7 linked regions of the Homo sapiens genome follow. The protein of the gene in region 5 purifies or fractionates together with the protein of the main gene of each other region. This does not show direct contact. Each region holds a gene or a part of one and is shown on either strand. Other genes may lie near its edges. The genes, in order: PCNX3, SRPRB, DERL1, UBAC2, RNF185, TAP2 and ASPH.

The links.
Region 1: the proteins of RNF185 (region 5) and PCNX3 purify together in Homo sapiens (affinity purification with mass spectrometry; 2 studies listed by BioGRID and IntAct, with this or other methods). This does not show direct contact.
Region 2: the proteins of RNF185 (region 5) and SRPRB purify together in Homo sapiens (affinity purification with mass spectrometry; 3 studies listed by BioGRID and IntAct, with this or other methods). This does not show direct contact.
Region 3: the proteins of RNF185 (region 5) and DERL1 purify together in Homo sapiens (affinity purification with western blotting; 2 studies listed by BioGRID, with this or other methods). This does not show direct contact.
Region 4: the proteins of RNF185 (region 5) and UBAC2 purify together in Homo sapiens (affinity purification with mass spectrometry; 2 studies listed by BioGRID and IntAct, with this or other methods). This does not show direct contact.
Region 6: the proteins of RNF185 (region 5) and TAP2 purify together in Homo sapiens (affinity purification with western blotting; 2 studies listed by BioGRID and IntAct, with this or other methods). This does not show direct contact.
Region 7: the proteins of RNF185 (region 5) and ASPH purify together in Homo sapiens (affinity purification with mass spectrometry; 2 studies listed by BioGRID and IntAct, with this or other methods). This does not show direct contact.

Annotation. Positions count from the first base shown.
Region 1 is NC_000011.10:65,625,532-65,629,565, forward strand, and holds part of PCNX3 (pecanex-like protein 3), read left to right. Parts: intron 1-95; coding exon of another isoform or gene 96-120; coding exon 121-213; intron 214-372; coding exon 373-523; intron 524-1,143; coding exon of another isoform or gene 1,144-1,169; exon of another isoform or gene 1,170-1,366; intron 1,367-1,372; coding exon 1,373-1,517; intron 1,518-1,873; coding exon 1,874-2,051; intron 2,052-3,063; coding exon 3,064-3,172; intron 3,173-3,287; coding exon 3,288-3,417; intron 3,418-3,825; coding exon 3,826-3,884; intron 3,885-3,988; coding exon 3,989-4,034.
Region 2 is NC_000003.12:133,808,628-133,812,661, forward strand, and holds part of SRPRB (signal recognition particle receptor subunit beta), read left to right. Parts: intron 1-2,489; coding exon 2,490-2,572; intron 2,573-4,034. UniProt on the Homo sapiens protein: Component of the signal recognition particle (SRP) complex receptor (SR). Ensures, in conjunction with the SRP complex, the correct targeting of the nascent secretory proteins to the endoplasmic reticulum membrane system.
Region 3 is NC_000008.11:123,012,141-123,015,491, forward strand, and holds the end of DERL1 (derlin-1), read right to left. Parts: coding exon 3,307-3,351; 3' UTR 1,030-3,306; downstream 1-1,029. UniProt on the Homo sapiens protein: Functional component of endoplasmic reticulum-associated degradation (ERAD) for misfolded lumenal proteins. Forms homotetramers which encircle a large channel traversing the endoplasmic reticulum (ER) membrane.
Region 4 is NC_000013.11:99,199,605-99,204,104, forward strand, and holds the start of UBAC2 (ubiquitin-associated domain-containing protein 2 isoform 1 precursor), read left to right. Parts: upstream 1-1,249; 5' UTR 1,250-1,304; coding exon 1,305-1,335; exon of another isoform or gene 1,336-1,807; coding exon of another isoform or gene 1,808-1,963; intron 1,964-4,500. UniProt on the Homo sapiens protein: Restricts trafficking of FAF2 from the endoplasmic reticulum to lipid droplets.
Region 5 is NC_000022.11:31,187,526-31,191,559, forward strand, and holds part of RNF185 (E3 ubiquitin-protein ligase RNF185), read left to right. Parts: intron 1-4,034. UniProt on the Homo sapiens protein: E3 ubiquitin-protein ligase that regulates selective mitochondrial autophagy by mediating 'Lys-63'-linked polyubiquitination of BNIP1.
Region 6 is NC_000006.12:32,835,688-32,840,450, reverse strand, and holds the start of TAP2 (antigen peptide transporter 2), read left to right. Parts: upstream 1-1,711; 5' UTR 1,712-1,798; intron 1,799-2,213; 5' UTR 2,214-2,217; coding exon 2,218-2,710; intron 2,711-2,799; coding exon 2,800-2,914; intron 2,915-4,677; coding exon 4,678-4,763. UniProt on the Homo sapiens protein: ABC transporter associated with antigen processing. In complex with TAP1 mediates unidirectional translocation of peptide antigens from cytosol to endoplasmic reticulum (ER) for loading onto MHC class I (MHCI) molecules.
Region 7 is NC_000008.11:61,641,379-61,645,412, reverse strand, and holds part of ASPH (aspartyl/asparaginyl beta-hydroxylase), read left to right. Parts: intron 1-780; coding exon 781-813; intron 814-1,411; coding exon 1,412-1,468; intron 1,469-1,979; coding exon 1,980-2,027; intron 2,028-2,492; coding exon 2,493-2,525; intron 2,526-4,034.

The sequences.
Region 1 (4,034 bases), on a different chromosome or scaffold from region 5:
GTCTGTGGGGAGGTGGTGACAGGTCCTGGGGTTCCTGGGAGGGGCATGTCCAGCTTGGGCTGCTGGGCAGCTGAGTGTCTCTCCTGGCCGGGCAGCTGAATGTCTCTCCTGGCCCTGCAGCGTGAGGTCTTGCACTCCGACCTGGTGATGTGTGTGGTGATCGCCGTGCTCACCTTCGCCATCAGCGCCAGCACCGTCTTTATTGCCCTGAAGGTTTGTGTGGCATGGGCCGCTGCTGCCTCTCGCTGTCTTGGCGGGAGCCTGCTCAATCTGAGTGCCGTGGGCAGCCCCTCCCCGGCCTGTGCCAGGTGGCCCTCTGTGGTCCCTTGGCCTGCTCCCATCAGCTGAGTCTCTGGCCTCTCCCTCCTGCAGTCGGTGCTGGGTTTCGTGTTGTACGCACTGGCTGGGGCCGTGGGCTTCTTCACACATTACCTGCTGCCACAACTCCGCAAACAGCTGCCCTGGTTCTGCCTGTCACAGCCCGTGCTGAAGCCGCTGGAGTACAGCCAGTATGAAGTGCGCGGTGAGTGCCCACCCCTGATGGCCAGGCCTGGGCAGTGGCTCGGGCTGCAGCCTGGCTGGTGGGAGCTGTGGTCCTCTCGGCTCAGGAGTGCCAGCAGGGGGCACTCGCTGCCCACACTACCCTTTCTGCTCCCTCCCTGCCCTCTGTGTCCGTGTTGCCCGGCTGCGCTCTCCACCGACTCTTCTCCTCGTGCCCTGCTGTGCCCTTCCCTTGCCTGTGTTGCCCTGGTCCTGCCCTCCTTCCTGTCTGTGAGAAGACGGAAGAATTAGAACCCCAGGGCCCTGAAGGGATCTCTTGTCCAGAATTAAACACTGATCACCAGTGGACCAGAGCTGCCTGGAGCACATCTTCACTGGGCTGCATAATGGTTTTTAAAAAATCCTGGAGCCTCTATTTTAGCATCTCGATTTGAGATATGAAGATCCATGTTTCTTGAGTTTTTCTTAAACGACAGAAGATTTTGCTTCCCAGACTAGCATCCCTCTGTGGCTACAACCAGCCTGAACCGAGGGGTCTGCCCTTTAGAAGGGCCCAGCTCACGGGCTCACTGTGCACTCAGGCCCTAGCCAGCCTGCTGTACGTAGGTGTTTGCGATTTCATCATTGGCCTTGTTTTAACAGACAGCAGAGCAGAGCACCTGCCATAAAGCAAGCCTCGATGTGCTAAGTGCCATGTGGAGCCCTTGCCCTGCTGGGGCTCGCTGCTCCCATTTGAGCTGCCACAGATCAGCCCCTCCCCCCAGGGTCTCCGAGGAGTCAGGACCGCACAGCCTGCCCTCCTAGGGAAGGACTTCCTCAGGGAAGGCAGGCATGTGGAAGCCAGGTGCAGAGTCCTGGCCTCTCCACACAGGTGCCGCCCAGGTGATGTGGTTTGAGAAGCTGTATGCTGGCCTGCAGTGCGTAGAGAAGTACCTCATCTACCCCGCCGTGGTGCTCAACGCCCTCACGGTGGACGCCCACACAGTCGTCAGCCACCCGGACAAGTACTGCTTCTAGTGAGGACCACCCCACCCTCAACGATCCCATCATCCGCTTTCCCTTTTGATCCGTGGGGAAACTGAGGCCTAGAGAGGGAATGAATCATGTCTAAGGTTGTTTAGCAAGCTAAAGCAGGACCCCAGCTCCTGACACGCCATCCCAGGAAGTGGTTGCTTCTTCAAAGGCAAATGTGTTCCCACCACTCCCTTTGGAAGAGCAGAGACTAAGAGTCACGGGCCCAAAAGAGCAGGGACCAGCCCAGCAGAGCAGAGGCCAGGGGTTGCTCTCCGGCCAGAGTAGGCGAGGGATGGGACACCTATACCCACTGCCCCGGTCCCCTACCAAGCACCCGATGCCTGCCCCTTGCCCACAGCTGCCGGGCGCTGCTGATGACCGTGGCTGGGCTGAAGCTGCTGCGCTCAGCCTTCTGCTGCCCCCCACAGCAGTACCTGACGTTGGCCTTCACCGTCCTGCTCTTCCACTTTGACTACCCGCGCCTCTCCCAGGGCTTTCTGCTTGACTACTTCCTCATGTCCCTGCTTTGCAGCAAGGTGAGTTGGTGGCTGTGGCCCAGACCCCAGGCTGTCCAATGGGAGCAGAGCCAACTTCTGCCTGGGTGGGAAGAGAATTTCCTGAGGGCCTGTGGCCACCGCTCTGTATCAGCCCCGTGGGCCTTTGCAGCAGCCTCTCAAGGAAGGGGTTACTTCCACCCTCTACAGAGAGGAAGCAGGCTGAAGGAGGTTGAGGGACTTGCCTCAGGCTTCCAGAGAATTGGTGGTCAGCCAGGATTTGAACCCAGGCCTGTCTGACCCCACGACCACCTCCTCAGAAATGGTTAGGGTAATCAGGACCTGGCCTTATCCTCTGGACGCAGACCTCTGAGTTCCACGCTCTTTTGCCACCCTGGATCCAGAGCAGTCCGAGCTGAGTTTCAGAAGCCCCTAGTGCCTGGGTGTGTATAGGTGCTCTGCCGGCTGTGGCATTGCCACGGCTTGGGGGGCTCTTTGAACTAAGGAACCATGCTCCTACACTCTACTGGAGGCCAGCAGTGGTACCTGGAACCCCAGGCAGGCCTGAGCCTTTTTCTTCCTCACGTGGGCATTCTGTTCTTGTTTTCTGGCCTGGCCCAGGATGGCGGTCATCCACACTGCGTACCCTCTGAGGGCAGGGCCTGTGGCTGTTCTCAATTTTCAGTACTATAGTCTAGCTTCAGCCTCACCAGTGACCTAGTGGCGTGACCTGAGGAAGTCATTTATCTTCTCTGTCTTCACTGAACCTCAACTTTCCCATCTGTGAAAAGGGGCCAGCAATAGGAATAAGAAGCTCACAGGGTACTTGTGTGAACTAAATGGCCACCGCCCCCTTTGAGCTCAGGCAGGGGTTGCTAATGGCATCAGGCGCCTTGAGCCATGTCCAGAGCACAAGGGCTGGCAGTGACCTTGAGTTTGGCCCCCGTGGGCCAAGCCAGTGCGATGACCCAAGCCTCTGAATGGGGCCTGGCATCCGGGGGCTTCCATGAGTGACCCTGCATGTCTTTTTTCTTCTCCCTGTTGGCCCTGCCAGCTGTGGGACTTGCTGTACAAGCTGCGTTTCGTGCTGACCTACATCGCGCCCTGGCAGATCACCTGGGGCTCGGCTTTCCACGCTTTTGCCCAGCCGTTTGCCGTGCCACGTATCCAGCCTGTGTTTGGGTGGGGGTGTGCAGGGAGGGCTGTGGCCTGGGGCAGTGGGGGGTGGTGGGGGGCTGGGAGGTCCTGTTGCCCGCCGCCTCCTTGACTGTGGCTCAGACTCGGCCATGCTGTTCGTCCAGGCCCTGCTCTCGGGGCTCTTCTCCACGCCTCTCAACCCACTGCTAGGCAGTGCCGTCTTCATCATGTCCTACGCTCGGCCCCTCAAGTTCTGGGAGCGCGACTACAAGTGAGTCTCACAGGAGGCGGGAGCATGCCCAGCAGGGCAGGAAGGGAGAGGTTTGGAGCCCAGGCTGGAGGCCACCCACAGAGGGGCCCACAGCAGGTATGGGAGGGCTTGGTCACAGTGGGGACACATGAGGCGGCAGATCCAATGCAGGGAGAGCCTGCACCAGGCCAAGGCTTCAGGCTCACAGCTTGGGGATAGTGGGGTCTGGGGATGAGCTTAGCCTCCCAGCTTCTTGGCTGTGTGTCCTGTGTGAGTCCCTTCATGTACCTGAGCCTCAGTCTCCTCATCTGCCTGCATAACGGGGCTGTCCTGGATGGCGTTGACCTTGTGGCACAGGGAGAGCATGAGCAGGGTGCACCCTCTCTTCACCTTCTTGGCCAACCGCCTTGTTGCACTCTCTCTGAACAGCACTAAACGTGTGGATCATTCCAACACCCGCCTGGTCACACAGCTGGACAGGAACCCTGGTGTGTACCCAGCCATCCAAGGGGCTTTAGGGCAGGGCCTCCCTGGGGAGGGAGCCTCGCTAACTTGTCACTTTGTCCATTTGCCCGTCTGTTCTGGGTCTTAGGCGCTGATGACAACAACCTCAACTCCATCTTCTATGAGCACTTGAC
Region 2 (4,034 bases), on a different chromosome or scaffold from region 5:
CGCCTGTAATCCCAGCACTTTGGGAGACCAAGGTAGGCCGATCACTTGAGGTCAGGAGTTCAAGACCAGCCTGGCCAACATGATGAAATCCTGTCTCTACTAAAAATACAAAAATTAGCCGGGTGTGGTGGTGGGCGCCTGTAACCCAGCTACTCGGGAGGCTGAGGCATGAGAATCATTTTAACCCGGGAGGTGGAGGTGGCAGTGAGCCAAGATTGCGCCACTGCACTCCAGCCTGGGCAATAGAGCGAGACTAAGTCTCAAAAAAAAAAAAAAAATATAAGGAATCATGGGAAAGACATTTTACATACCTCTGTAACTTCAGAATGTAGACAGTGACTACCAAACCGATTGTAATGCATAAGTTTGTTTGTTTGTTTTTGAGACAGGAGTCTCACTCTGTTGCCCAGGCTGGAGTGCAGTGGCATGATCTTGGCTCACTGCAACCTCTGCCTCCCGAGTTGAAGCGATTCTCCTGCCTCAGCCTCCTGAGTAGCTGGGATTACAGGCGCCCACCACCATGCCTGGCTAATTTTTGTATTTTTAGTAGAGATGGGGTTTCACCATGTTGGCCAGGCTGGTCTTGAACTCCTGACCTCAAGTGATCCGCCCACCTCAGCTTCCCAAATTGCTGGGATTACAGGCGTGAGCCACTGCACCCAGCCATGTAATAAGTTTCGGTGAGTGAGTGGAGTGAGGGCTCGTTGGAGGATGTGGATGGATAGATGGATGAATTAGAATTGTGGTTTGAGACCTTTTCTTCTTCTCTTTGTCTTCTTTCCCCTTTCTCATGCCTCCAGAATTAAAGATTGTAAAGAAAAATAAAGGGACATGTTTTTAAATATCTTAGCGATATCTTTGTTTTTTTTTTCAATGATGACACTCTTTGTGGCCCAGACCTTTTTAAACTCCCAAGGATTCAGATTTTGAAATTCCAGGTTTGCAAGATCATCTAGTACCTGCACTAGATTTTTAACTTAGGATACTCCAGGATATGCTTTAAATCTGTACCTTCTAATATGTAGCCACTGGCCACATGTGACTGTTGAGCACCTAAACTAGGACTAGTCCAAATTGAGGCATGCTGTAAGTGTGAAGTACACACCAGATCTTGAAGACTTAGTATGGAAAAAAAGAACGTAAAGTATCATTAATAATTTCTTTTTTTATTACATTTTAAAAGATAATATTTTGGATATATTAGATTAAATAACTTAAAATTAATTTTACCAATTTCTTTTTACTTTTTTATTATGGTTACTGGAATATTTAAAATTACATATGTGGCTTCTGTTATTCTATATTTCTACTATATTTCTATTCTATCAATATTTCTACTGAATATATAGAGCATTTTTCCCTTCCCTCTTCACTCTTTCTCCTACCCCCTTACGTTTTCGATCTAATCTCTTTAGATAGTAATATACCTAGTAATGTATCTTCCAAATTGCTTAGGGTGTGTGGTATAGTGCTGCTTTTGAAATGGAGCAGTTAAGTCCCAACCTGGGATCTCCAGACTCTTAACAGTACTTAAAAAAAAAAGAGAGGGACTAATAAAAAACATATTTGTCTATAAAGAAATGCACAGGCTATGTGAAAGGTAAGGTCATAATAAACCCAGCTGGAATTGTGTTAAATCTGTGCAGGATACTGATTGCCTGCTTCTGAACTGTGGGTATGGTTGGCTGTGGATAATGTAGAACATGTAAGAAATGATGGTCTGCTGCATGTACCAGGCCACATCTAAGAGTCTTATTGTTGAGCACAGCCACGTTTACACTGAATATAAACTTTATTCACCATTCCAGGCCTTGACCTTATATTCAGGAATGGCAGCCTGGCATGGTGAATAGAACTTATTAGGGTGCATCGTAGATTTGCTCAGTAGGGGCTCAGGAATTGACACAAATGCTGACGGAGTTGGAACAAGTAAATTATATGTCTGGAAGATAAATATTTAAATAATTAGATTAAGGGTGGAAATGATAAAAGTGTACTTTGTTATAAAGATTGGAGATCCCAGTAAGAGTAATATGCTCTATGAAAAATTGTAAGTTCTTATATTACATTATTAGTTTATGAGTACTTGTTACTGTTTTCACATTTTTGCTTATACTCATACAGTACTCCTACTTTGCTATACTCACACTGGTTTATCTCCCAAGCCTCAGGTAGATCATGCTTCCCTGACTCCCCCAGACAGGTTTTTCCTGTACCCTCAAAACATTTATCAGTGTTCTCATTTTATATTTATGTGTAATTTTACATTATGTTCACCTTTCTCATAAATTTTGCCAGATCAGGAACCGTGTCTTTGGCCACTGTTACATCCCCAGAACGTTGACTAGTGTTTTATGAGTAGAAGATGCTTTGTGAACATTTGTTTGGTTAATTAGGTACCAGTTTGGTAGCCAATATATGATACTAAAGGTTTATATTGTGAACGTGGAACTGTATTGAAACGTTAATGTTATTGCTGCCATCCCCAGGGCAATAGTCTGACCTTGATTGACCTTCCCGGCCATGAGAGTTTGAGGCTTCAGTTCTTAGAGCGGTTTAAGTCTTCAGCCAGGTAAGAAGGAAAGAAGTGAAGTGGGCTTGTCTAGGTCTGTATCTGTATATCAAAGCCACTCATGTGATTTGCTCTGGTGGTGTTTGGGAGGCAGCATGGTATCCTGTGGTAGACCTTGAGGTGACCTTGGGGTCAGCCAGTTCTGGGTTGCAAGTCCACCTTCACCTGGATGATGAGGATTTTATGGGATTAAAATGCTTAAAAAGTGTTTTTTAGTGTTTAGGAAATGTTAACCCTTCTTGTCATTGTTACTAAATGTTTGCATTTATTCTGAAGGTGAATTTAATAATGTATATGACTATTAAAATCTGAAAAAAGAATTTTAAAGCTGGGATGAATCCTAGCAGTTTTTAAATGCCAACATCATTTATATATATAGTGTTTTTTTGTTTTTTTTTTTTGAGATGGAGTCTCACTCTGTTGTCCTGGCTGGAGTGCAGTGGTGTGATCTCGGCTCACTGCAACCTCCACCTCCTGGGTTCAAGTGATTCTCCTGCCTCAGCCTCCTGAGTAGCTGGGATTACAGGCACGCACCACCACACCCTGCTAATTTTTCATAATTTTAGTAGAGATGGGGTTTCACCATGTTGGCCAGGCTTGTCTCGAACTCCTGACCTCATGATCCGCTGGCCTCAGCCTCCCAAAGTGCTGGAATTACAGGCGTGAGCCACTGCACCTGGCCCATATATATTCTCAAATTACGTAAAATTGATGTTTCAAGAAGTACAGAACAATATTTCCATATTTCTTTTAGTGTGTGCTCTGGTGTTACTGACTCTTAAGTTCTTCCCTAAAAAGTCTTATGCTGCAGTTTCAGATGCTTCTTTTTTGGTCTCTAACATTAATAAGAACTGAAGAGGAAAATCAGTATGCCACATTTCACTGATTTGAAGACACATTTTAATATCTCTGAATTTAGAATATATCTTATAGTTGATGGTGTCATAGTTTAATTGGCAGTATTTTCTCTTAGCGGTCCCTAAAATAATGTCTTTAATTGGCAGCATTTTAGTTTTGATGGAATGAAGTAGTAGATTCTTTGCCTTTTATTGAAGATGTCTAGACTGAAATTTCATTATTGCATCTTTGCCCACAAGATGGTGGTGATGAACAATTTGTCACAGATAAGAAAATTCCTTGGACAATTGAGACAAATCTAGAGCTGGTAAATTTTGCCATAATTGGGTTTTTATTTCCAATTAAATGTTTTTTCTTTTTCTATTGCCAGTTCTAAATATTTTATGATTTGCAGTATAACTACTCTGTGATTCATGTATTTTGGGTAAATAAAACATGCAAAATATGAAGATAAAACTTAGTTCAAATAAATTATAATCATGATAACATGCAAGTTGAAAAGACATTTACTATATTGGTATGTGACTTTTTTTTAATCCTACTTTCTGGCTTCGCCAAGTTTCCCTAGTGGCTATTTTCCCTCTCCTGATTTGAACATATGCTG
Region 3 (3,351 bases), on a different chromosome or scaffold from region 5:
GGGAAAGGCTGGGCACCGTGGCTCAGGCCTGTAATCCCAGCACTTTGAGAGGCCGAGGCAGGTGACTTGCCTGAGCTCAGGAGTTTAAGACCAGCCTGGGCCACATGGTGAAACTCCATCTCGAACAAAAATACAAAAAATTAGCCGAGTGTGGTGGCACACACTTGTGGTCCCAGCTACTCAGGAGGCTGAGGTGGGAGGATCATCTGAACCTGGGAGGCAGAGGTTGCAGCGAGCCGAGATCATGCCACTACACTCCAACCTGGGTGACAGACTGAGATCCTGTCTCAAAAAAACAAAGAAAGAAGAGACAGAGAGGGAGAGAGGGAGAGAAAGAGGGAGGGACAGGGAGGGAAGGTGGGAGGGAGGGTTAAGAAAGAAGTAAACACAGGACATGGTATTCCTGGCCAATTCTGATCACCAGTCACTCTGGAAGGCAAACAAGTGAACTGCCAGTAAACCCATTTGCTCAGCCCAGCCTTCTAAGAAAAAAACAGTATAAAGTCCAGAAAGGAGTAACTTCTTTCAAAGGTTAGTTATTCAGAGTGTTAAGTTACTGCTGAAAGTGTAAGAGGGGCAGGGACCTCAGAAACAGAGTTGGCAATAAACGAAGATGTTGGCAACTGCAACATTGCCTATTATTAGATCCATGTCATTCAAAAGGTAGCTTAGAACACAATGATACTGGCAATGTGTCCTTCTAAATAAGCGGGATCTTTTTCTATTGCTTCAGTATTTCCCCAGTAATAGAAGAGGGACATACATACAACCTGCTTCCTGTCACCTCACCTTGTGATGAGTGAAGTTGGCCTGTCGAAGGCCCAAGATACAGACTGGGATGTTCACCCTCGAGGAAAAAAAAAAAAAAGGGCTCAGGAATGTCATGGCACCTGCTATCTAGTCTGTGTGTGCCTTATGAGGAAACAGGATTAAACTAATTTTATAAAGTTCCAGGGCTCAGATCCATGGGTAGAAGCTATAAAAATGCCATAAAGCATGCTACAATCAGATATGACTCCTCACTCAAAGTTAGCAAGCATCCTCCTTCATTAAAATGAAAACCCAGGAATTCTGCATCCAGGAATTAATCCAGCAAAAAATACTGGGTACTTCCTAAATGCTCTTCAAGAGATAATTGGTTACACAAATTATGTGATATCTAAGAGACAGCAGAGCAGGGACATGGAAACTTAACACAGACAACCTTCAAGTTGCACATTTTAATTTACAATTTTTACCAATAAAAAGGATTAGTTTACAAAAAGGGAAGTCCTTTATACAAAATAAGGATTTTTTTTTTCCATTTGTAAAGAGAATCCACTGTCATGTTTTGCCTTGTCAAGTCAAAACTCAAATAGCTTGTTTTGGTAAAATTATTCCAGAAACATAATCCAGACAAAATCAATAACGTCATCAGCTTCCTAACCATGTTTAAGAGGAATAACTTCATGAACATTTTGCCCTGAACTGAAGAGTTCTAAATACTTGTAAACCTTTAGGAAAAAATGACTGCTCGCAGGCAGCTGACTGGTAAGAGGGTACACCAGAGACTCCGGGTCACTCACTGTCAGAATATTCTTATACATACAATGAGTCTCCACGCCTGTACAATGAGTGTACGTGCAACATAATTGGAGTAATGGCCTCTAAAATTTTACAAGTAAACTTTATTGTGGCCACAGATGAACAACAAAACATGACAGTTAAGGTTCAGACTCTCCCCACCTATTTTATCATATAAATTAAATATGGAGAGGTACACACAAACTCTATTCAAAATGAGAAGTTGTTTGCCAACTCTCATTTCCTAGGATAACACACATCACACTGTTTAAGAGTGGGGGAAAGAATAGTCATACTGTTAGAGCACAATGTTTCCTGAAAAGAAACTGATCAAAACGTTTGAAGCCTTTTTAGTTGCCTCAAAGTGTGACAGCCACTCAATACTGCTCCTAACAGTCTGCTTTCAGATAACGTCATAAAATAAAATAACTGTGTGAAAAGCCATGGCCTTCAAAAAACTTTATTTGGTTATGAGCCAAGCTCTGATAGGAAAAGCCCACCTACGAAAAAAAGGTGTGGGTATTTAAGCTGGTCTGATTCACAGAGCTTGTACATTCATGACTCAAAATAACACACCCTCAAACCCAAATGATTCTAAAGCCATTTCAACCTTAAATCATGTTATTCCCTTAGATGTGCTTACATTAGCTTTAAAAAATGATCTACGTGCAGAGAGGAGCTGCGCCTTCCTCACAATTAATTGAAACATGACCAAAAAACGGGGGATAGGCAAAAAAGTGACATTTAAATAGCGTATGAGGGTCTCTCCTCCTTTACTCAATGAACACATATCCAGAATGAGATTGAAATGGAATCAATGCCCAGGAGCCTCTCAAAGAGAGCATCTCCCTGTAGCCAACATGATCTGGATCCTCCTAACACAAAGCAACCCAACTACTCCAGCTACACAAAGCCAGTAGGCCTACATATGAAACGCAAAGGGGTTGCATCCCCCATGGTTTAAACCTAACCCATGTTAGCTGCAACTCCACTACAGTCTTGATCACTTAGCTCAGGAAACAAACACCCAGCAACAACCCTCGTATCTCATTAATACCAATCTGTGGCCCTCACTGACTCAGTGGTACTTTTTTATAAAAATATCTGAAGAAGTGGCAAACGGTTACAACGGATGTCAGGTCGAAGCAATTCCAAAAGCTGAGAAAACGCTTCATCCGCTGCTTGTCTTCTCCCCCTATTGCTACAGTTCTGCCACCAAAGGGGGAAAATTACGTGAATATGATTGTTGTGACCAAGCCTTGGCAAAAGTCAATAAATAACAGAACCTGTCAAGGGCAGAGCAATTTTATGGGCAACCTCTTCTAGTTGCAAATGTGGGGGTTGGGAAAAGTGGGAGAGAGGCATGTGTGCAAGAAAGAGATAAGGGTCCTTTTGGGAAGGGTTTGGTGACCCAGCCCCAGCTCAATGCCAGCAGACTAGGACCCGCTAAAACCCATTATTCAGACGGAAAGGGGAGAAGAGAAGACACCAAAAAATGTAGTCAGTTTTGCAATTTGCACAGTTGGTATTTGTTCTTCACAGCAGTAAGGACTTGAATGAGAATCGTGAAACTTGTGGAACACTTATATTTTTCTTCGGGATTTAAGAAACTTTGTCTCGTACTGAAAGACTACATTCAGTGTGGGTCAGGTCCAACAGTGTTAGCCAGAACGCAGTTGTTAAGTGCACCCAGCACTGGGAGGAAATGTGGCTTGAGAGGAGCGGCTGCCCGAGGCCGCCCCTTCACTGGTCTCCAAGTCGAAAGCCCTGGCCCCAGTTGTGTCTCCC
Region 4 (4,500 bases), on a different chromosome or scaffold from region 5:
TTTTTTAGTACTCCATAGCCTATCCCTTTCATTTAGCTGGGTAGTGTGGTCAATTTTCCCCATAACATGCGTTCTCACATAATTGCATGTATTTCTGGGGTACAGTGTGATGGTTCCATACATATACACATTGTGCAACCATCTAATCAGGGTAATTAGCACATCCATCACCAAAACACTTGTCATTTCTTTGTGGTGAGAATATTCAAAATCCTCTCTTCTAGCTATTTTGAAGTTAACATTATCGTTGAGTATAGTCATCCAAACGTGCAAGAGAATACCAAAACTTATTCCTTCTAACTATAACTTTGTGTCTGTTGACCAACCTCTCCCCATCTTCCTCCCCACTAACTCTCCTCTGTACAAGAATAACCACTCTTTTACTCCCTACTTTCACGAGATCAACTTAAAAAAAAACTTTTTAAAACGACTGCATGATATGTTTTCAGGCTCACACATTTAAAAACCGTGACTTTGGCAAAGAGTAACTTCATTCTGCTGGGGAAAAAAATTTAAATGGCCTGAGTCCGGAAGCTCGCCAGGGCAGAAGCGCAGGGTCGCTCCGCCGGGCTCGCCGGGCCGGGGACCCCCCAGCCACCCGCCACCACGGCGGGGAGGGCAGGGTGCTGACTCCAGGGACCACGACAGTCGGCCCCGGTGGTGGGGATTCCGCGCGGGACCCACGCGGGAACAAAGAGGCGGCTGGACGGCCCAGCTCTCCGCACCCGGAAGGACCTGTTCCACCTCTCCGGCTCCCGTACCCCTCTATCCGCATCTGAGTGACCAGATCCCACTGCAGTCAACAGCCCGCGGGGTAGCCAGCTTCGAGGGACCGCCCGGAAAGACACAACGCGCGTGGAAGGCGCCGGGCGTCCAGTCTCGGGAGAGATTAGAAGTGGCGCTCCTGCCCAGCGCCGGCAATCCAGGGGAATCCGCGGCCATCGCGGATCCACCAGGGGTGAGGCGGCACTGAGCACAAGTGTGAGGCTCTCGGGAGCTACGCCTCCGCTTCCCCAGTGCCACCCGTTTTTACCTCAGGCGGTTCTGACCGCCATCGTTTCAACCTGGAGAGGTGAGCCCTCCCCTACCGACGCACTTCCCTTCCCCGGCAGGAAGGAGGGCGCTGACCCAGCGGGCGCACGCCCCTGACTGCGCATGCGCCGGGTGCGCCGTTCGTCAGCGGCGAGTGGCCTCGCGGCGCCGGATTCGTCGCTCCGCCAAGAGTGCGCCTGCGCGGTCGCTGGGGCTCGCACTTCAGCTTCCCCTCCCCCGGCGCCCTCTGGGGCTCCGAGCCCGGCGGGACCATGTTCACCAGCACCGGCTCCAGTGGGCTCTGTGAGTACCGGCCTCCGCCATCCTGGCTGCCCCCTACACGCCACCCTAGGCACCTCTTTGAGGAGGCTGGGGCAGCGGGGACCCTCGGGTTTGCCGGAGGTGGTGGGGCCGACCCTCCAGACCCGCGTCCGAACCCTGCTAGTTCCCGGTCTTGGGGGTCAGCGGAAACCGCCCCCATTTCGGCCTGGAGGGGCGAATGGGGACAAAGCCCCGCCGCCCGCCCCGACCCCACCTGGTATCCCCAGGTGCTCTGCCCAGGAGTCTCTTGGGGCCGCTGCAAGTGGGCAGGTGCCCTGGTGTTCTCGTGGGCCGGCCCCAGGCCCTTTGCGGAGCGTGTGCCGCGCTGAAGGAAGGGGCCGTCCCCCTTACCATGCCCCATTCTTTTAGGCTTGGGGGACCGAACTAACTCCCCCCGCCCCCACTTGCAAAGTTCAGCCTCCGCTTTAGAAGCTGACCTCTCAGTTTCACTTGGATGTGTTTCTTCTTCAGTCTCCAAGAAGAGTTTTTAGACAAACACACACTGATGAGAGTGCTTTCAAGTGGAGGGAAGTTAGGAAGTCGTGGCGAGGGAGCGCAGCTGTGCTGCTGGATGTTGCTGTTTTCCTGGCGTGTTAGCGGTGGTCAGCAGGTAGGGGGCGGAGTATTTTTACAGCCAGTTAAACGGCTTTTCTCACTGAGTGTGTGGAATTGACTTTCGGTAAGGTAGACTGCGTGTTAACAGTTAGGCACGGGTACAGCAACGGAGAACAGCTCTAATTTTGCAATTGCTTGTCACTGTTCATACTCCATGTGAAGTTAATGCTGCTGGAGGACAGAAACATCTGACATTTCCAAATATTAAAGATCTGTTGGCCGGGCGCGGTGGCTCACGCCTGTAATCCCAGCACTTTGGGAGGCCGAGGTGGGCGGATCACGAGGTCAGGAGATCGAGACCATCCTGGCTAACACGGTGAAACCCCGTCTCTCTACTAAAAACACAAAAAATTAGCTGGGCGTGGTGGCGGGTGCCTGTATTCCCAGCTACTCGGGAGGCTGAGGCAGGAGAATGGCGTGAACCCGGGAGGCGGAGCTTGCAGCGAGCCGAGATTGCGCCACTGCACTTTGGCCTGGGCGACAAAGCGAGACTCCATCTCAAAAAAAAAAAAAAAAAAAAAAGATCTGTTGGGAATGTCATGAATCTTCTGAGAATGTGTGTCTCGTCTTATAGTCTGACAGTGAGTTAGTATCAGCGCCACAGGCATAATTTTAAATCTTCCTCACTTCTCAACTTCTCAGGTTTTGAAGTGGTTTCAATATTTATGATTTCCTTTGTTTCATAATTAATTTGATTTATGGCATCTTTCATGGATTGGTCCCGGAGTATGTTACAACTACTAAGTAATCTTCCCCAAACTACCCTTTAGATAAAGAGCATTAGGACTGTAGCTGAAGCTGACAGTTCAAGAAGGCAATGTGGTTTTCCTGGGATCACACAGTGAGCCAGGAACTACTGGTTATGAAATTAATGGTGGAATTCTTCAATTTCAATTGTTCTTTAGCATTTTGATCTATCCTTGCTGGCCAAAGTACATATAAAAAAATAAAGGGCAAGAGAAATCTTATTGGTTGCTGTACTGTATTAGCCATGAGATTATATTGGCCAAGTGTATTCAAATTTGATACAGGGCAACTGTGGGGAAGATAATATTTTGTTATCTATGGCACATGGTGGTGAGTGTTGAATTCTAGGAACCAAACTGTTGCCCAGGGAGAGGCGTAGGTCTGGAGCCCCTCTGCAGCTGTCTTGGCCTGTTTCTAAAATTAAGTGCTTCTGCAGTGTAAGAGTTGTTGGGATGGCCGTTCCTCAGAAGGCTGTGTCTTACATGCTCATTTTACAAACATTTTGGGCATCTCCTCTGGGCGATGAACTGGGCTAGGTGCTGGGAATGCAGCAACGAACAGGTCCTGGTCTCAGTGCTTACAGTGCTGACGGAGCTTAGGCACAGTTTTCCAGGACTGGTCATTAGAAAAGGCTGTGTGTCAGCTTTAACATTTTTCTCTGGAGAAGCTACCCACTGAGGGAGAAGTGATTTCCTTTGTTTTATTTTATTTATTTATTTATTTATTTATTTATTTATTGAGATGGAGTCTCACTGTTGCCCAGGCTGGAGTGCAGTGGTGGATCTCCGCTCACTGCAACCTCCGCCTCCCGAGTTCAAGCGATTCTCCCGCCTCAGCCTCCCAAGTAGCTGGGATTACAGGTGCCCACCATCACACCTGGCTATTTTTGTATTTTTAGTAGAGACGGGGTTTTGCCATGTTGACCAGGCTGGTCTTGAGCTCCTGACCTCAAGTGGTCCTCCCGCCTCGGCCTCCAAAAGTGCTGGGATTACAGGCGTGAGCCACTGCCTATGATTTCCTTTAGATAAGTTGAGGGACCCTTTAGCAAATCAAAATTCTGATCCTGAGCAAGAATCTGAAAGAAGGACGACACGTGTACCTAGCCCTACCCCCATGGGTGGTGAATAACAGTCCCTTTCCAGGGATAAATCCCTGCCATTTTCTACCACCTGCATGTTTCCCACGTTTTGTGGTTAGTAGATAATAGTATTTTAGTGTTAAACTTGCCTTTCTCTCTCATCCATTCAATAAGTGTCTGTTGGGTACCCATATCAGCCACACACTGTTGATATACAGAGGATAAAGTAATAAGCAGGATCAAGGAGACCAGCATCAAACAGGCTAACAAGTCAGTATGATTCACATAGTGATAAGTGACATGAAGACAATGAGAGGGTAACTGCAAAGACCGAAGTTATGGTGGAGGACCACTTTAGCATGCATGGTCACGGAGGGTAGCCGGGAAGGTGACATTGAGCTGAGGCTCAGATGGTGTGAAGGAGCAAGCCATATCAGAGTTTGTTGAAAACTCTTCATTTTGAAGAAAGGGGACAGCAATACAGTTTCAGACACAATGCAGTTGAAAACACCCTGCCATGCCTGTTTCAAGTGCTTGAAACTATATTGCTGTCTGCAATTATGACCGGGTAAAAGTGCGTAGGATTAGTGATCATGACTTATTTTAGGTTCCTTACTTGTAGACCAATGCTGTCACTCAGCTCTACGTTGAGTAATATGTGTATCATTCACTGCATTTATTAATAAGCTCCTATTTACCTCACAGTA
Region 5 (4,034 bases):
TGCTACTTGCTGTGCTGAGCCTAGAGGCAGTATAGCATAATGGTTATAAGCAAGGACTGTGGAACTGGGCTTCCTCCTTTTGAAGCTTGACTCTGCCACCTTCCTGTTTGACCTTGGACAAGGTACTTACACACATTCTGCCTCATTTTACAGGGTCGTTTGCAAGCATTAAATGACTCAAAATATGTAAAAGGCTTAGAAGAGCACATAGCTTGCAGTAAATACTATGTGTTAGCTATGACTATAATTGTTACTATATTTTATGTTTATATATAGATAGATACACTCATCAAAATGAAGTGTCAAGGTCGGTGTCTGTTCCAGCCTTGACGGTTACAGGAGCCCTTTCTGGCTCTGAGAACCTAGGTGCTAGGTGAAGGTCGGATTTTGGTTTTTTGTGTGTGTGTGTGTGTTTTTTTTTGTCTTGAGATTTTGAGCTGAACCTTGAAAGGTCGATCAAAAAATGCTAGGTAAAGGCGAAGGGTGTGTGTGTCACTCCAAGGCAGGGAGTTTCTAGGGACAGGCACATGCACTGTTGGACTCATCTGAGACCCTTGAGGCTACTGTATACCTCTCACAGCACTCTGGATGAGGGTCTGGGAGTGTTAGGAAAAATAATGGTTACAGTAGTGTTGAGCCAGATTATCAAACCCAGATTCGACTAAAGGGACATAGAGGTAATGAATATTTTTGAGCAGAGAAATCGTGTGAAGAAAAGGCCGTTTAAACAATATTTAAGGGATTTTAAGTTGGCAACAGCGTAAAACATCAATTTATTGGTGAATAAATAGAATGGAGCAGAGATTTTTGTTCTTGAGGCTCTTGCCCTAATTACCATCTTGTGTAAAAGCTGTTGTGATCCACATTCTCCTAGAAATTCAGGATACTTCAGGGTATCGTAAAACCAGGACTTGAAATGATTGACAAAATTAAGAATTCAAAGACAGGATACCCCTGATTTGATTATGTGAATGTATCAAATTATCACATATAACATAAAAAATGTGTACAGCTATTATGGCTGGGCTCAGTGGCTCACACCTGTAATCCAAACACTTTGAGAGGCCATGGTGGGAGGATCACTTGAGCCCAGGAGTGCAAGATGAGTCTGGGCAACATAGTGAGGCCCCACTATGTTTAAAACTAGTCAGGCATGGTGGCGGTACCTGTAGTCCTAGCTACTCGGGAGACTGAGGTGGGAGGAAGGCTTGAGCCCAGGAATTCGAGGCTACAGTGAGCTATGATTGTATCACTGCACTCCAGTCTAGGCGACAGAGAGAGACCCTGTCTCTTAAAAATATATATATATTCTGGGCTGGGCGCGGTGGCTCACGCCTGTAATCCCAGCACTTTGGGAGGCCAAGGTGGGCGGATCACAAGGTCAGGAGATCGAGACCATCCTGGCTAACACGGTGAAACCCGTTTCTACTAAAAAAAAAAAAAAAAAAAAATTAGCCGGGTGTGGTGGAGTGCACCTGTAGTCCCAGCTGCTGGGGAGGCTGAGGCAGGAGAATGGCGTGAACCCGGGAGGCAGAGCTTGCAGCGAGCTGAGATCGCGCCACTGCACTCCAGCCTGGGTGATGGAGCAAGACTCTGTCTCAAAAAAAAAATGTGTGTGTGTGTGTGTGTGTGTGTGTGTTTGTGTTTGTGTATGTATTTATTAAATTTTATAATTATAAATTTTAAGATTATAAATTATGTATTTTATGTATATATTAACTATACATATATTTAAATGTACAGCTGTTGTATATCTTTTTTTTTTTTTTTTTTTTTTTTTTTGTGGAGACAGCCTTGCTCTCTTGCCCAGGCTGGAGTACAGTGGTGCAGTCTTGGCTCACTTGCAACCTCTGCCTCCTGGGCTCAAGTGGTTCTCCTGTCTCAGCCTCCCAAGTAGCTGGGACTGCAGGAATGCACCACCACGCCCGGCTAATTTTCTTTTTGTATTTTTAGTAGAGATGGGGCTTCGCCATGCTGGCCAAGCTGGTTTCAAACTCCTCACCTCAAGTGATCTGCCCACCCCGACCTCCCAAAGTGCTAGGATTACAGGCGTGAGCCACCATGCCTGGCCCTGTGTCAAATTTTTTTTTTTTTTTTTAGAGACGAAGTCTTGCTTTGTCACCAGGCTGGAGTGCAGTGGCACAATCTCGGCTCACTGCAATCTCTGCCTCCCAAGTTCAAGCAATTCTCCTGCCTCAGCCTCCCGGGTAGCTGGGATTACAGGTGCACCCAGCTAATTTTTGTATTTTTAGTAGAGAGAGGTTTTCACCATGTTGGCCAGGATGGTCTCGATCTTCTGACCTCGTTATCTGCCCGCCTCGGCCTCCCATAGTGCTGGGATTACTGGTGTGAGCCACCATGCCTGCTATCAATTTTTTTTTTAAAGGCAGAATGCCATTGGAAAGAACACAGACTCTAAAATGAAACAGATGCTTCCAGTCTGGATGGTGCATCCCTGAGCAAATCTGCTAGCTTCCCTGTACTTTGGTTTCCTCATCTGTAAGATGGAGATGATGGTACTGCCTCATAGGTTAATGTGACCGTCCAGTGACATTAAGAAATGAAAAGGTATTCAGCCACAGCGTGGCACACAGTACAGTCATGCAGTACATAATGACATTTTGGTCAACAATGGATTACATATCCAACAGCGGTTCCATAAGATGATGATGGACCTGAAAAGTTCCTATAATCTAGTGATTTTAAAATGTTATAGAGCAGTGCGTTACCTTTTCTGTGTTAGGTATGTTGGATTTTTTGTTTGTTTGTTTGTTGTTTTTTTGAGGAGTCTCACTCTGTTGCCCAGGCTGGAGTGCAGTGGCGTGATCTTGGCTCACTGCAACCTCTGCCTCCCAGGTTCAAACGATTCTCCTGCTTCAGCCTCCCGAGAAGCTGGGATTACACATACGTGCCACCACACCTGACTAATTTTTGTATTTTTAGTAGAGACGGGGTTTTACCATGTTGGCCAGGCTGGTCTTGAACTCCTGATCTCAGGTGATCCAACCGCCTCAGCCTTCCAAAGTGCTGGGATTACAGGCGTGAGCCACCACGCCCAGCCTGGTTTTTGGTTTTTTTTGAGATGGAGTCTCACTGCGTCACCCATGCTGGAGTGCAGTAGCACTCCAGATTGAGTAGCACGATCTCAGCTCACTGCAACCTCCACCTCCCAGGTTCAAGTGATTCTCGTGCTTCAGCCTCCTATGTAGCTGGGATTACAGGCATGTGCCACCACACATGGCTAGTTTTTGTATTTTTAATAGAGATGGGGTTTCACCATGTTGGCCAGGCTGGTCTCGAACTCCTGACCTCAAATAATCTGCCCACCTCAGCTCCCAAAGTGCTGGGATTACAGGCATGAGCCACCACACCTTGGCTCTATGTTAGGTATGTTTAAATACACAAATATTTACCACTCTGTTACAGTTACCTATGATACTCACATGCTATTCAGGTTTGTAGCTTAGGAGCAATAGGCTATACTATGTAGCCTAGGTGTGTAGTAAGCTATTTCAGCTAGGTTTGTGTAAGTACACTCTGTGATGCTCACAATGATGAAATTGCCTAATGACACATTTCTCAGAATTATCCCTGTCGTTCAGTGATACATGACTATCGTTGCTTAATAAATGGGAGGAATGGTCGTTGTTATAAAGCCTGACTTTCCCCTGAGGGTCATTCATTCACCTCCACTTCTCCCCTAGAGTCTTTAAGGGAACTTGCCAGTGGAGATCTGCCATGATTTGGGGTTATTCTCCACTCAGTTTAGAATGACATTGCAAGATTAATGTTGGAGTCAGATGTTATGGCCAGGAAGATTGTGTATTTGGTTTGTGAAGCTAAACTGTGGTTCAGGAATTGGAAAAGGAACTATCCTTTGAGTTCAAAGTGTACTCAGCTAAAGATACTTGGTATGTGAGGTACAGAAGCCATGCCTGCATTTTCCACTGTCCTGGCCTACATAGTAGGTACACAGTAGATATGTGTTAACTAAATAAACGAGAGAAAGAAATTAAAAATGTGGGCCAGACACG
Region 6 (4,763 bases), on a different chromosome or scaffold from region 5:
TTGTTAATGGTTTGAGGAACAGGGAGTAGGGCACCTAGGATAACTGTTTTTGACTTTATAGAGTAGGATGAAAAAGCTTCCACTTCACTTTAATATGGTAATCATATAAACACCATACCATTTATCCCAAATAACACTTTGGAGATATTGGATATTGAATATAAAGACAGACATTAAGGGTCTAATTTCATGATGTGTCATGCTGAATTGCAAGATGGCAGGACTATAATTTTAGAGGAAGAAGAGATCAGGAGGACTCCCCTAAGTGAGGAGTGTGGGGAAAATGTAAAAGATCCAGGTTAGAAGAAAGAGACACACATCATGAGATTTTCGGAATCATGCTGGAACTATGGACCATGTCACTTTCCAGAAAATAAAGGAAACAAATGCTTGAAAGTAGGAGCATGAGCTTGAGCATGGAGCTTTTTTCATTAGAGAGAGATTCTTAAAATGCCAGAATGAATAGAGTTGTAAAACTTTAGCGAGCCCCTACTTAAAATCCCTCCTCCCCACCACCACTATTTTAAACTTTAAGTGACTCCTTGGTAGTCACACAGGTAACATTTCAAAATGGTGATCTGGAATCCAAGCGACCCTTCCTTTGGGGAATTTGTTTGTTTGTTTGTTTTTAGTTTGGGAGGTGGTTTCAATCTGAAGAGTCCTTTCTGGAATAAACGAATCTTTCTGTTGCATAGGAAGGCTCTGGGTCAGGAAGGATATTTAAAAACCTAATTACTGTTCTAAACAGTGTTAAAATAGAACAAGAACCAAAGCTCAGTACGGGGCATTTCCCTCATAGGCTGAAGGTGCGCCCAACATAATTTGGAGTACAGACTCAGAGGCACCTGAACACGCGCCAGCTCAAGGTGCTCCGGCTGAGAAGGACGGATGAAGATGAACGCTCAGGGCCTACTAAATTCAAAGTCTGTACGTGAAAATCCCCTTTGGCCTGGTGAGATTGGTTGGAACCTTCTATTTAGGAGAGCCCGGCTCGCTCGCCTAAAACTGGAGCTTGCATGGAAGAGGGCACTTTTTTTTTTTTTAGACGAAGTCTCACTCTTGTCGCCCAGGCTGGAGTGCAATGACCCGATCTCGGCTCACTGAAACCTCTGCCTCCTGAGTTCAAGCGATTCCCCTGCCTCAGCCTCCCGAGTAGCTGGGATTACAGGCGTCCGCCACCACGCCCTGGCTAATTTTTGTATTTTTAGTAGAGACAGGGTTTCACCATGTTGGCCAGGCTGGTCTCGAACCCCTGACCTCAGGCGATCCGCCCGCCTCGGCCTCCCAAAGTGCTGTGATTACAGGCGTGAGCCACCGCGCCGGACCAGAAAGAAGGCACTTCTTAATAGTAGGCTCAGAGCTTGAAGTAGTAACTTTGAGAAAATTCAGTGATTCTCCAATTACAAAGCATTCTCCAATTACAAAGCAAGGACAACAGATAAAGTTGCCCTTGAGACAACTGTATTTTACTTAATGATAAAGAAACATTTTTGCAGTTTTATATCCCAGAGTAACCGCCACTAAAGGCGAGTGAGACTCATTGCAGGCCTGTACAGTGCGAACCAGAGTTCGGGCTCCAGTTCCGCTGTCTGCGGGTCTCGCGCGCCCCCTCCCGGCGGCCCAGCCCAGAATGAAGGCCTTGGCTGGGGAAGCGAAAGCGAAAGCTGCCCGAGCCCTGACGCCCGCCCTGGCCGAGCGTAGCTGGCGGACCAGAGCCGGTAGCGAGGTTGGGAGAGACGGAGCGGACCTCAGCGCTGAAGCAGAAGTCCCCGGAGCTGCGGTCTCCCCGCCGCGGCTGGTGAGTTGGTGCGGAGGGGAACCTGGAGCGCCAACAGGGACGCAGCCCAAGTGACTACCCACTCCACGCTCCTGCTTCCCAGTCCCTCTGCACCCGGCGATAGGAGGGAGCGGAGCCCGGACCACTTAGCTCGCCGCGGCAGGCGGGGGTGGGGGTGGGGGTCCGGGGATTTTTTTTTTTTTTTTTTAAGCACGAGGCTCCTGATGGTCATGCTTCCAGCTCCCCAGAAGGCCGAAAGCTGTCTGTCGTAGGAGGGGTGTACGGATGAGCACCGGTTACTCAGGAGAGCTCTCAGGGTTGAATAGGATAAAATGAGAAGCCGATGGACGGGTTAGGCGGAGCCGGGCGGGTAGGAGGGCAGGGACAAGGATTGGGACTCCACCCCCATGATTTCTCATCTCGTATCCGTTGACAGAGCCATGCGGCTCCCTGACCTGAGACCCTGGACCTCCCTGCTGCTGGTGGACGCGGCTTTACTGTGGCTGCTTCAGGGCCCTCTGGGGACTTTGCTTCCTCAAGGGCTGCCAGGACTATGGCTGGAGGGGACCCTGCGGCTGGGAGGGCTGTGGGGGCTGCTAAAGCTAAGAGGGCTGCTGGGATTTGTGGGGACACTGCTGCTCCCGCTCTGTCTGGCCACCCCCCTGACTGTCTCCCTGAGAGCCCTGGTCGCGGGGGCCTCACGTGCTCCCCCAGCCAGAGTCGCTTCAGCCCCTTGGAGCTGGCTGCTGGTGGGGTACGGGGCTGCGGGGCTCAGCTGGTCACTGTGGGCTGTTCTGAGCCCTCCTGGAGCCCAGGAGAAGGAGCAGGACCAGGTGAACAACAAAGTCTTGATGTGGAGGCTGCTGAAGCTCTCCAGGCCGGACCTGCCTCTCCTCGTTGCCGCCTTCTTCTTCCTTGTCCTTGCTGTTTTGGGTGAGTCAGGAGAGGACGTTGTGAGTTGGAGGTGGTAAAAGGGCCTGGGCACCAGCACATTCTTGTGTTATTTTTCATGCCTCTTTCAGGTGAGACATTAATCCCTCACTATTCTGGTCGTGTGATTGACATCCTGGGAGGTGATTTTGACCCCCATGCCTTTGCCAGTGCCATCTTCTTCATGTGCCTCTTCTCCTTTGGCAGGTAGGTGGTGGGCAGCTGGGTCCATTTGCTAGCCCCAAATCTTTATAGGGGTCTTCACTTCCCTAACTCCATTTCTAGGCCCTTTCAGGCGCAAAACACAAAAATACTTAAACTAAAATATGGTGAATGTAGTCACCATTCTGTTTCATCTATCCATTCATTTCTTCCTTCGTTCATATTCATCCAATATCTTCAAAGTTTATCTGATCTTATTATAGGAACAAGTTATGAGTGAAGGTAGTACAAAAGGAATTTAAGTCTCAGATGGAATGTCTCTCAGTTGTCTCTCAACATTCCTAGGTCCATGAAATTCCATTTCTTTCTGCCTCCTACCTCCTACCCCTAAGTCTGTCTCCAAAGTATCTCTCCAGGGTCACTCCCTCAGGATGGGTATGCTTCTCCCTTTCACTCTTCTTTCCCAGCTCATCTTGCCAGTCCCTGAAGATCTTACTCTGAGGCTTATCACCTTTCTTTCCAGAATCATTACTCTTTTCCCTTCACTTGCTTTCCTTTCTCTTTCTAGACATACTCAAACAAACAAACTGTTTGATAAGGCTGGGACTGGGATGAGGTGAGCGAGGCACCTGGGGTGCAAAGTTTAAGGAGGTGTGCACTCACCTTACCCAAATCCCAGCCGGCCTGATTGTCTCTATTTTTATGGTCATACTTAATTTAGAGTACCCTCGAAAACCATTTCATTGTGCCTTCATTCCATCCTGGCTGCTTTCTGCTGAAACTACAGTCGTGCACTGCATAACGAAGTTTAGGTCAATGATGGGCCACATATAAGATGGTGGACCCACAAGATTATAATACCATATTTTTACTGTACCTTTTCTATGTTTAGATACACAAATACTTACTTCTGTGTTACAGTCGCCCACAGTGTTAGGTGCAGTTATATGTTGTACAGATTTGTAGCCTAGGAGCAATAGGCTAAACTACATGGCCTAGGTGTGCAGTAGGCTATGACATCTAGGTTTGTGTAAGTACACTCTATGATGTTCATACAACGATGAAACCATCTAACGACACATTTCTCAGAACACATCCCTGTCATTAAAGTACAAACCCTCATTATATCATGTCTGACTCTCCCAAACGCCTCTTCAATATGGTAACTAAATTTGTATTAGAAACATATATTTTGTAAAATACATGCTTTTATGCTTTATATTTTTTCCTCTAAGTGTTACTGTAGCATGTAGTTGGTCTAAGAGGGATTTTCCAACTCGAAGGATGAAAGATGGGAATCACATGACTCTGGGGCTCCAGAGAATTGTGGGGGCAGGGAATTTATTATTGCAGTTCCCATGATGAAGTATCTATGATGACAGAGAAGGGCTTTGGGTATGGGGCAGGAAGGAGACCAAGGCGGAGGAGACGCACAGAGGGACAAGCCTGAGGGACGCTGGGACAGAAGCAAGCACTGGGATACTTGTTTTCACAATATCTTTTCCCTTCTATTGTAGTTTTCTATTGTGTCTAGTACAGAGTGCACTCCATAAATACTTGTAAATTTGTACATGTTATGATTTTGTTCTCACATCTAGCTCACCATGTCTCCTCTTTCTTCTTCCTCTGTGTATTCCTTACCTCTTCTCTCTCTGTGTGTCTGTCTCTCATTTCTTTCTCTTTTGCCCCTCCTGGCATGCTTTCCCCTGACTTTGCGCTTCTCTGCACTCCTGGCTTGCTCCTCTGTTTCACCCGCTGGCTTGCTCCTTCTCTGCATCTCCCTCCCCTCTTATTCTCCTACCCCACAGCTCACTGTCTGCAGGCTGCCGAGGAGGCTGCTTCACCTACACCATGTCTCGAATCAACTTGCGGATCCGGGAGCAGCTTTTCTCCT
Region 7 (4,034 bases), on a different chromosome or scaffold from region 5:
TATCTACATGCTGCTTATACAACAAATTTCAGTTAAGATGCTGAAATAAACAGAAGCATGAGGAATTTGATATTCTTAAAGTTAGGAGTCACAGATTGGGAGTAGGAAGAAACACTTTTAAGAAGTTCACAAATTGCAGAAACCTTACTTTCTGATCTCATCTTTAATTAGGACATAGATGCAGTTTGAACTTAAAAGTTGGTTGTTAAAAGTCTTCAGAAAATAAAAATATTTATTCTTTATATATGCATTAAATAAAATTAGCAAGGTCATAAGTGTGGTGACGGACAGATAGCTCTTCTGCTATCTGGGGTGTATGGGTTAAGTGTTCAACACATTTACCCTTCAGCTCCCTAAGGGTATAAAGCCTCTTCAGCTGTTTTTCTCTGTTCCCATCCATAGTTGCTGTACTTTCGCTCTAGAAAATGGTAGGACAGGTCGAGGAGATAGCACATTCTAGTGGGTTGTGAAGTGGATTAGAAATGAACGGCTTTCCTGGTCTGGCCTGTGTCACTCTAAGTTGTCCTCTCTCTTTAGTCCAGGGGGTGGTGGTTGTCAGCCTTGTGGGGATGAGTGGACTGAGAAGGAGAATGTGTGAGACATCCCACAGTGTACTTCTAGTGAAATATAAAAGTGTTAAGCAGACTTTTAATTGATAGTCCCATTTTTTAATTTTTTAAATAAAATTAATGATAAGCATAGATTCAGAGTACATATACGGGATATATACATACCATTTTGTAAAAGCAGTAAATATCAATCTAATTTTTTTTTTTCCAGAAACCGAGCATAGTTACCACGTGGAAGAGACAGGTGAGATTTTAATTTAATTCTGTTCTTAATTAGAGTGAGTCTTCCTTTAAAAGGGCATCATAAAATACATAATATCTATTATTAATGATATATTTAAATTAATATATGCAAGATATGCAATTAATAATTTTATTACGTCTTATATTTATGGTATTTCTTTGTGAATATACTTTTTTGTGTTTTGATGCCTAGTTCCTGAGGATAAATTTTCAGTAGGATTACTAGTTCAAAAGATACAATTGAATTGCATGTTTTGTACCTTTCAATTACAGAGTCAACGAAAGGTCTAAATCATGTTTTGTCACATGCCAGCGCCCTTAAAGGGCATGGCCACAGGAGGTGGGCGCATCATCTGTCAGCACTTTACTGTTTTGCGGTTTGAGTGTAAACCAGTTGATGACAGGCCCCCCTTACTCATCTTTGCATTTGGCATTTAACACACTTAATACCTATTTGTTTCAGGAGTGAACATGTTTGAATATCATTATGACTTGATTTTGCATTTCAATCATAACTAGAAATTGTGTCTTTCTGGTTTCGAATATTACATGTATTCCTTATTTGAGACGTAATTTCCTAATTATTCCATAATTTATAGTTTCACAAGACTGTAATCAGGATATGGAAGAGATGATGTCTGAGCAGGAAAATCCAGGTTTGTAAATGTTAAAATTATTGATATGTGTTTTCTGATTGAGGCAGTGGCCAAGGCCGTTTTATTCCAGGGTTAACAATTGTGATTCAACACAGAGATCCCTGTATGGTATTTATAATCACTTTTGATTGGTCAGATGTTTATAGAAATGTCTGAATATAGTTTAATACTACATAGAGGGATGAGAGAAAAAGGAGACGTATTTTTCAAACCACTGTTGAGACTTTGGTCTTTGTAGGTAAGGTGCTGGAAAGAATATTTGAAAATTGAAGGGGCAGTATGATGTACTATAAAGTCATTCTGGGTACAAATCCCATTTCTACTCTTTCCTATCTTTTTGACTTAGGCATCAAATTGTGGAACGTTATTCAGCTTAAATTTTATTAAATGATAATGAAAACATCTATCTGGCAAAGTTGTGAAGATAATTAATTTATGAATCTCCTAGAATGCTGTCTGGCAATGTGTTTGGTTTTTTCCTGTTTGGCAAAGGTGTGTTTTTGTTTTTTAGATTCCAGTGAACCAGTAGTAGAAGATGAAAGATTGCACCATGATACAGGTATTAGATGAGCATTTTCATTAGATTTAAAATATTACCTTAGATTTTTCAATCACATGCTGTGTTTACATGGTGATTTTTCTTTTAAAGGCATCAAAGAAGTAATTTCGACATCTAATGCATGAGATTTTGTTTTATAACAAAGTTAGACTGTTATAAGAATATCAGGCTTTCATATTTCACCTCATCAACTAACCATTCCATAACAAAACAGGATGTCAAATTTTAATGCTGTTTTTGTGTATCAAATTCCTCTGTGCCAATTTGAGAAATTTTAATGAAAATAATTTACCTGCCTTTTAATTGCTTTTGGGCAGAGGCATTTATTATTGACTGAGCAGACATTAATATTTGAAGGAGTAGAGTTCTGTGTTTACGATTAAGTAGTATTTTGTTTTAACTGAACAATTGTATAGAATGACTCAGTTAATACTTATTTTGCTTTTATTCTCTTTTTTTTTTCAGATGATGTAACATACCAAGTCTATGAGGAACAAGGTTTGCAAATGCTTTCTTTTTTTTTTTTTTCTTTTTTTTTTTGAGATGGAGTTTCGCTCTTGTTGCCCAGGCTGCAGTGCAGTGGCACAATCTTGGCCCACTACAACCTCCGCCTCCTGGGTACAAGCGATTCTCTTGCCTCAGCCTCCTGAGTAGCTGGGATTACAGGCATGTGCCACCACGCTTAGCTAATTTTGTATTTTTAGTATTTTAGGGTTTATCTCAAACTCCCGATCTCAGGTGATCCTCCCGCCTTGGCCTCCCAAAGTGCTAGGACTACAGGCATGAGCCACTGCGCCCGGCCTGCAAATGCTTTCTAACCTTAAGCCACCTTCTTGTTTTAAAATATACCTATAGTTTGACTACAAGATGTGGAACATTATGCTTTAAACTATAAACTTTGCAACTTAAAACATCCAGATGAACGGTAGCGTTCAAAGAATTCACTTGGGGAGACTGTTTACCCATTCCACGGCTTCTGCCATTGCCTAAATAATTTCTTAAACTCTTTACAAGTTGCCTTAGGAGGCAGTTACAGTCATTCAAGAAAACCAATCTCAGTACTTTATAGTTGTGTCTCTTTTGACTAAAATATGCATGAACAACTACTTTAGCCGGAGTTAAATTGCTCTAGCTGCTTCTACAGGTTAATCCCACTCTCAAAGATGACTGATTTGTCACCTTGGGGAAGGTTAAGAAGCACTGTGTTCCAGGCTTAAAGGCAGTATGGAGAAAACAGTTCTGGCAAATTTGTGGCATCAGCAGCATCTGATTCAGTTTAGGCCTGTACCTCCCTCCTCTTGTGTCCAAGCATTGCATAGACTATTGTGTTGAACTCCATGAAGTAGATTTTATTTTCCCTGCTTCCCAGAGGACAGAAATAAGGTTCTGACATTATAAATAAGCTGCCCAAGAATGTATGGCTAAGAAGTAATAGAACCAATAATATATCCTTTTTATTCCATTATCCTCAAAGATGATTATGTAGAAAGAGAGAAGTCAGTTGGGTATAACTTTATGTGTAAAGCAAGAACGATGAAGAAATACATCGTAATTGAGTTGGTGGATATGGAGGACTTTCTATGTTCTAGATGGTTTTAGGGCCTGGAATTCAATTATGAGTAACATAGGGTCCCTCCTTTCAAGGAGTTTACAGTGTCATGATAGATAGTGAATCACAATTGAAGAAAATTAGGAGTGTTTATAAATATGAATCATATTTATATGATGATTTAAGATTTGAGACCCTACCAAGTTCATCATCTATAGTGGCTATTTCTAATGGGATATGAATGACACCATGGGAAAAATCCTAGGTTGTGTCTTTAAGGTACTGATAATTTTTATGAAAAGTTAAAGAATTTGGACCTGATGTGTTCACAGGAAGATTTGGGGCCGAGGGAAGGTTGGGGAATAATTTGGTCTTGAGATTGCACTTAGATTTTCTTTCCAATCTTGAATTTGAAGGAGAAAATAGGAATTTATAAATACAAGTTGCATGTAATGATG